Linked DNA regions of Homo sapiens: region 2 is reported to be linked to region 1. The links are microRNA targets in miRTarBase. Many come from high-throughput screens and were not tested one by one. Region 1 holds a microRNA gene; the other region holds the end of a gene's coding sequence.

Evidence for each region. Region 1 holds the annotated microRNA hsa-miR-3689d (GGGAGGUGUGAUCUCACACUCG, at 2,787-2,808, opposite strand). A microRNA usually pairs through its seed, bases 2 to 8, with sites in the 3' UTR of a target mRNA and lowers its output. Matches are read on the target gene's strand: a 7mer-m8 pairs with bases 2 to 8, a 7mer-A1 pairs with bases 2 to 7 and ends in A, and an 8mer does both.
Region 2: miRTarBase lists ESPL1 as a target of hsa-miR-3689d. Seed matches in the 3' UTR shown: 7mer-A1 at 394-400.

Annotation. Positions count from the first base shown.
Region 1 is chr9:134,846,874-134,850,606 of GRCh38, forward strand. It overlaps MIR3689D1 (microRNA 3689d-1), which reads right to left and starts at 2,809; the gene lies at 2,736-2,809. It overlaps MIR3689C (microRNA 3689c), which reads right to left and starts at 2,496; the gene lies at 2,425-2,496. It overlaps MIR3689A (microRNA 3689a), which reads right to left and starts at 2,691; the gene lies at 2,614-2,691. It overlaps MIR3689B (microRNA 3689b), which reads right to left and starts at 3,399; the gene lies at 3,252-3,399. It also overlaps MIR3689D2, MIR3689E and LOC101448202.
Region 2 is chr12:53,293,128-53,296,424 of GRCh38, forward strand. It overlaps ESPL1 (extra spindle pole bodies like 1, separase), which reads left to right. Exons shown (of 31, transcript NM_012291.5): 31 at 146-511. The coding sequence ends at 347. It overlaps PFDN5 (prefoldin subunit 5), which reads left to right and starts at 2,415. Exons shown (of 6, transcript NM_002624.4): 1 at 2,415-2,512; 2 at 2,712-2,814; 3 at 3,117-3,148. The coding sequence starts at 2,441. RefSeq lists enhancers at 2,098-2,637, 2,123-3,297.

The sequences.
Region 1 (3,733 bases):
TATCCATCCATCCATCCACACATTCGTTCACCCTTTCATTCATCTGTTCATCCATTCATTCATTCATCCATCCATTCATCCATCTATTCATCATTTATCTGTCCATCCATCTATCCATCCATTCATCTATCCATCCATCCATCTATTCATCATTTATCCATCCATCCATCCATCCATCCATCCATCCATCCATCCACTCTTTCATTCATCCATTCATTCCCCCATTCCTTCAGTGGCAGTTCATTGACCACCTGCTGTGTGCCAGGCGGGAGCAGCAGGGGAGAACCCACCCTCAAGGAGATGCCACTCCAGGGGACACGGGCTGACCAAGACCCACAAGGCAGGGGTAAGGTGTGCCCAGAGGAATGAGACCTGAGGAAATGTAAAGGGGAGGAGACAATGTGCATGTGTGTGGTTGTGTGTGTGTGGGGGGGGTGATGTGCATGTGTGTATGGCACGTGTGTGCATGTGCTATGTGGTGTATTTTGCATGTGCTATTTGTGTTTATGTGAAGTGTATGTGTGTTGTGTGTGTACCTGTGTGTGTGGTGTGCCTGTGTGGTGTGTGTGTGTGCCTGTGGGGAGCTGTGCCTGTGTATGTGGTGTGTGTGCCTGTGTGTGTGGTGTGTGTGGTGTGTGTGTGTGTGGTGTATGCCTGTGTGTGGAGGTGGTGTTTGTGCATGTGCCTGTGTGGTGTGTGTGCTGGCGTGTGTATGGTATATGTGTGCGTGCCTGTGGGGAATGTGCCTGTGTGTGTGGTGTGTGCTGCATGTGTATAGTGTGCATGCCTGTGTGTGTGGTTTGTGCTGTGTCTGTATAGTGTGTGTGTGGGTGTGGTGTGTGTGCCTGTGTGTATGGGGTGTGTAGTGTGTGTGGGGTGGGGATTGAAGTGCTCTCCTGGGTGACCAGGGCCACTGGGAAGGTTCTCTCTGCCTGGAGCCCAGCGGGCAGGAAGGGCTTTGCAGGAGAGGGAACAGCAGGGCAGAGGCCAGAGGGAGTGGGGAGAGGAAGGGGAAGTGGGAGGGGGCTGGTGTGGCCTGAGCAGAGATGGGGAGGGAAGCCACACGGGGCAGTAACCCAGACGCAGGCTGGGGGCGGTGCAGACCCATGAGAGTGGGTCACACTCCGGCTCCAGGTGTTTCAAAGATGGGGTTGATGGGATTTGCTGAGAAGAGGAGGTCGAAAGTGAGACGAGAGAATTCCAGGAGATGCTCAGCCACAGGCATGACCCCCACAGTGCCGCAGGAGCACACACACACGCGCACACACGTTTACCCACTGACAGCTGTGGCCTGGTGAGACCAGGCTGAGGACAGCTGCCTCAGCGACCCAGGCTCAGATGCCACCAGTGCCCCATGTGGCCTCGGGGAATCTGCTGCTCAGAGCTCCTGTCTGCCCATTTGCACATGGGACCCATGAATGGAGGAGGCACTCTGGCCATGTGGCCAGAGGCCCCGCTCCTGTCCTGCAGATGTCTTGGTGACGAAACCCGATCCATGCATGTGGAGGAAGGTGGGGGCATCCCTGGAGCTGGCCTGTGCCAGGCCAAAGTGCTCCTTTGAGCTGCCCAGGGCTGTCCTAGTGAGTGTCCTCAGGCTCTGGCCACCCAGGAGGGCCAGGGGCGTCTGCATTCGGGAGTGGGTTGGAGAAGGGGACGATGGGAGAGCAGGAAGCTTTTGCAACTGCTCCAGGGCCATTGGGAGGGTGCAATTGGCTGACACCCGGAACTTCATTGATGCTTACCCCACGTGCCCTCTGTGTGGGTCCCGCTCCCAGTGCGGACACCACCTCCTAGCTCTCACTAGCTCATGCAGGCCTCTGGGGCCCTCCTGAATCCACACCTCCCAGGGCTGGGTCCTGGTTGTTCCCCAATGGGGAGCTGTGCCTCTCTATCACCAGCAGGCATGTGATCACACCTCCCAGGAAGCACAGGATCACACCTCCCAGGAAGCACGGGATCACACCTCCCAGGAAGCACGGGATCACACCTCCCAGGAAGCACGGGATCACACCTCCCAGGAAGCACGGGATCACACCTCCCAGGGAGCACGGGATCACACCTCCCAGGGAGCACGGGATCACACCTCCCAGGGAGCATGGGATCACACCTCCCAGGGAGCACGGGATCACACCTCCCAGGGAGCACTGGATCACACCTCCCAGGGAGCACCGGATCACACCTCCCAGGAACCACGATATCACACCTCCCAGGAAGCACAGGATCACACCTCCCAGGAAGCACAGGATCACACCTCCCAGGGAGCACCGGATCACACCTCCCAGGGAGCACCAGATCACACCTCCCAGGAACCACGATATCACACCTCCCAGGAAGCACAGGATCACACCTCCCAGGAAGCACAGGATCACACCTCCCAGGAAGCACAGGATCACACCTCCCAGGAAGCACGGGATCACACCTCCCAGGAACCACAATATCACACCTCCCAGGAACCACGATATCACACCTCCCAGGAACCACGATATCACACCTCCCAGGAACCACGATATCACACCTCCCAGGAAGCACGGGATCAGACCTCCTGGGGAGCACGGGATCACACCTCCCAGGAAGCACAGTATCACACCTCCCAGGAAGCACGGGATCACACCTCCCAGGAACCACGATATCACACCTCCCAGGAAGCACAGGATCACACCTCCCAGGAACCATGATATCACACCTCCCAGGGAGCACAGGATCAGACCCCCCAGGGAGCACAGGATCACACCTCTCAGGAAGAACAGGATCACACCTCCCGGGGAAGACGATAGCACACCTCCCAGCGAGTGTGAGATCACACCTCCCAGTGAGCGTGGGATCACACCTCCCAGGAAGCATGGTATCACACCTCCCAGGAAGCACAGGATCACACCTCCCAGGAAGCACGGGATCACACCTCCCAGGAAGCATGGGATCACACCTCCCAGGGAGCACCAGATCACACCTCCCAGGAACCACGATATCACACCTCCCAGGAACCACGATATCACACCTCCCAGGAACCACGATATCACACCTCCCAGGAACCACGATATCACACCTTCCAGGAAGCACAGGATCACACCTCCCAGGAAGCACGGGATCACACCTCCCAGGAACCACGATATCACACCTCCCAGGAACCACGATATCACACCTCCCAGGAAGCACAGGATCAGACCTCACAGGGAGCACGGGATCACACCTCCCAGGGAGCACGGGATCACACCTCCCAGGGAGCACGGGATCACACCTCCCAGGGAGCACGGGATCACACCTCCCAGGGAGCACGGGATCACACCTCCCAGGAACCACAATATCACACCTCCCAGGAAGCACGGGATCACACCTCCCAGGAACCATGATATCACACCTCCCAGGAAGCACAGGATCAGACCCCCCAGGGAGCACAGGATCACACCGCTCAGGAAGAACAGGATCACACCTCCCAGGGAAGACGATAGCACACCTCCCAGCGAGTGTGAGATCACACCTCCCAGTGAGCGTGGGATCACACCTCCCAGGAAGCATGGTATCACACCTCCCAGGAAGCACAGGATCACACCTCCCAGGAAGCATGGGATCACACCTCCCAGGAAGCACAGGATCACACCTCCCAGGAAGCACGGGATCACACCTCCCAGGAACCACGATATCATACCTCCCAGGAACCATGATATCATACCTCCCAGGAAGCACGGGATCAGACCTCCCAGGGAGCACGGGATCACACCTCCCAGGAACCACGATA
Region 2 (3,297 bases), not on the chromosome of region 1:
TCTGTTCTTCTCTTGTAACCAAGGGCCAAAGGAGTTTCTCATTGGTTCAATCCTCTCCACTCACCCACCCCCACCACCAATGGTGTTTTCCTATGTATTCTGTTTTAGAGCCCTTACTTTGTATTTCCTCCTTTTCTTTTCCCAGCCCCTTGTTTCTGGGTAATCTCTGGGATGTGACTGACCGCGACATTGACCGCTACACGGAAGCTCTGCTGCAAGGCTGGCTTGGAGCAGGCCCAGGGGCCCCCCTTCTCTACTATGTAAACCAGGCCCGCCAAGCTCCCCGACTCAAGTATCTTATTGGGGCTGCACCTATAGCCTATGGCTTGCCTGTCTCTCTGCGGTAACCCCATGGAGCTGTCTTATTGATGCTAGAAGCCTCATAACTGTTCTACCTCCAAGGTTAGATTTAATCCTTAGGATAACTCTTTTAAAGTGATTTTCCCCAGTGTTTTATATGAAACATTTCCTTTTGATTTAACCTCAGTATAATAAAGATACATCATTTAAACCCTGTTTTGCGTAGTTTATCTGAGAACATTTAAAGACACGGCATGACTGCCCCCTTCCTACTATGTGGTACTGTAAGCTGACAGGAACAGGTTACAGCAGATCAAGTTTGAGTGCTTGGGGAAGAAAGGCAAAGACACAGGACAAAGCCTGCTGGGCCTGGCTGGGCCTCAGCAGACAAATCTGGAGGAGAAAGGGGCATCAAAATGCTAAGTAGAGACAGGCCCAAGGAAGGGTAGTGATAGACCCTTTGAGAGTGTTTTGGCCAGGTACCATCCGTCCGTCCTGTCTTCCTGCCGCAGGTATCTTTGGAGTGGCACTAGTGTTTTGTTTTTTGTTTTTGTTTTTTTTTGAGACAGAGTCTTGCTCTGTTGCCCATGCTGGAGTGCAGTGGCGCAATCTCGGCTCACTGCAACCTCTGCCTGCTGGGTTCAAGCGATTCTCCTGCCTCAGCCTCCTGAGTAGCTGGAACTACAGGCACATGCCGCCACGTCCCACTAATTTTTGCATTTTTAGTAGAGACAGGGTTTCACCATATTGGCCAGGCTGGTCTCGAACTCCTGACCTTGTGATCCACCCTCCTCAGCCTCCCAAAGTGCTGGGATTACAGGCGTGAGCCACCGCGCCCAGCCATGGCACTAGTTTTAATGCCTCAGTTGCCCTGCCTGCCTCCTAAGTAGATGTTAAAGGCTACTGCTGTCTGCCCATGTACACCTGTTACACTTACCAATGTGTAACTTTAGCAGTAGAGTCTGTGGATCTGTGGAGTTCTAGTGTGGTTTTTCTCTCCAATTGTTAAGCTCAAGGGAAGCAAGTATCTTACACTCTCACGTATCCCTCACATACAGCACATGGTAAAACCTTTTTTTTTTTGAGACAGAGTCTAGCTCTGTTGCTAGTGTGCACAATCACAGCCTACTGCAGCCTCAACTCTCCAGCTCAAGCGATCCTCCCACCTCAGCCTCCCATGTAGCTGGGACTACAGGCGTGTGCCACCAGCCCGGCTAATTTTTGTATTTTTTGTGGAGACGGGGTGTCGCCGTGTTGCCCAAGCTGGTCTCAAACTCCTGGGCTCAAGCAATCTGTCCTTCTCGGCCTCCCAAAGTGCTGGGATTGCAGGCGTGAGCCACCATGCCCGGCCAAAATATTTTATTGATTAATTTGTGCTGTACTTGGTTGACAATGGCGCTTCCTTGCTGTTCTCCCACCACCTCACTGGCAACGGGTGATAAACCCTTTTTCAGATCCTACTACGTGTCAGCCTACTTCCGGCTGGGGGAAGATGGTTATAGCGAGAGGGGAAGAATTGGTTCAGTGATGAGAACATGGTTGGTTCCTGCCTTCGACAAGCTTTCAATCTAATGCCTGTTTTTTTCCAAGGACAATTCAGAACGGTCTGACAAGGGATTTTTTTTTTTTTCCTGCCTTTCGGCCTCAGAGGCCATCTGGGAAAAAGAGTTTAGAATTTCCCTGCCATTTCCATGCCGTGCTGGGAGGAACATTTGAAATCGGGCCTGGCGGGGTACCAGCAGGCAGCAATAGCAAGCGGGGTGGAGAGGAGCAGGGCCAGGCCCCCGAGCCGTCGCCATGGCAATCCAGCCTGCTTTCCAGTAGCTTATACCACCCACGTGGAGTAGCATACACTACTTTGTAATATCGTGGTTGTGTCGTGAGAACTTTAAGATTTTGCAGTTCCTTGTAGGCAGGAGTCCTGTTTGCTGCTACTTTACAATACTAGGCTTAAGACATTTTATGAAATGAACTCACACAACAGTCTCTGAGAGGCTCAAGCCCCTCCTTCCCTTCCGGGACGGAGGATCATAGAGCTGTCTGGCGCAGCGAGGCCTCCCGGCGCCACCGAGACGCGCAGAGGACGGCTAGAGCGTTGCTCGCCGAGAGACTTCCTCTTCGTTAAGTCGGCCTTCCCAACATGGCGCAGTCTATTAACATCACGGAGCTGAATCTGCCGCAGCTAGAAATGCTCAAGAACCAGCTGGACCAGGTGGGGACGGGCCCCAGAGGCACCTCTTTCCTGCTCTACATCCCCCTTGCCCACGCGTACTTCTCGCGCCCGGTTCCAAGTTGGCAGCCTACCTTTCCCAGGCGAAACCTCTATCCGATCCCAGGACCTGCCCCCTCCCCGGCCGCGCTCCTTTCTCCCCTTAGTCCTCTCATTGACCCGCTATCCCGGTCCTCTGTAGGAAGTGGAGTTCTTGTCCACGTCCATTGCTCAGCTCAAAGTGGTACAGACCAAGTATGTGGAAGCCAAGGACTGTCTGAACGTGCTGAACAAGAGCAACGAGGGTATGGGGTAGGCGGGTGAGGGTAACCTAAAGTGGCGAACCTGCTTCTCTCGTCCCACCTCCTAACCCAGTTTTTCTTACCTGAAACGAGAAAATCCATTACATATCGTATACCGCTTCATGAACCCTTTGCATGTTGCCTGCCTAGAATTGAAAAGTACAGGACATTCCTCTGCTCCTATTGCCCCTGTTTCCGTTCTTTTCACACTGTCTGTGGGTGCTGTGCCCTGTTGGAACTCTCTTTAACGTCTTACGTTGGAGCCGCTAACCTTCCCCAGGTGTTTGTCTTCATTGCTTTCACAGGGAAAGAATTACTCGTCCCACTGACGAGTTCTGTATCCTTTCCACAGGAACGGCTACCTGCTGCCTTCTCCCTTTCTCCTTCACTCCCCCAAAAAGCGGGGAGGGGGATTGTTTTGATTACTTCAGATTACCCTCTCCTCACAATGATTTTGAGGATACCCTTTTTTTTTTTCTTTCTTTT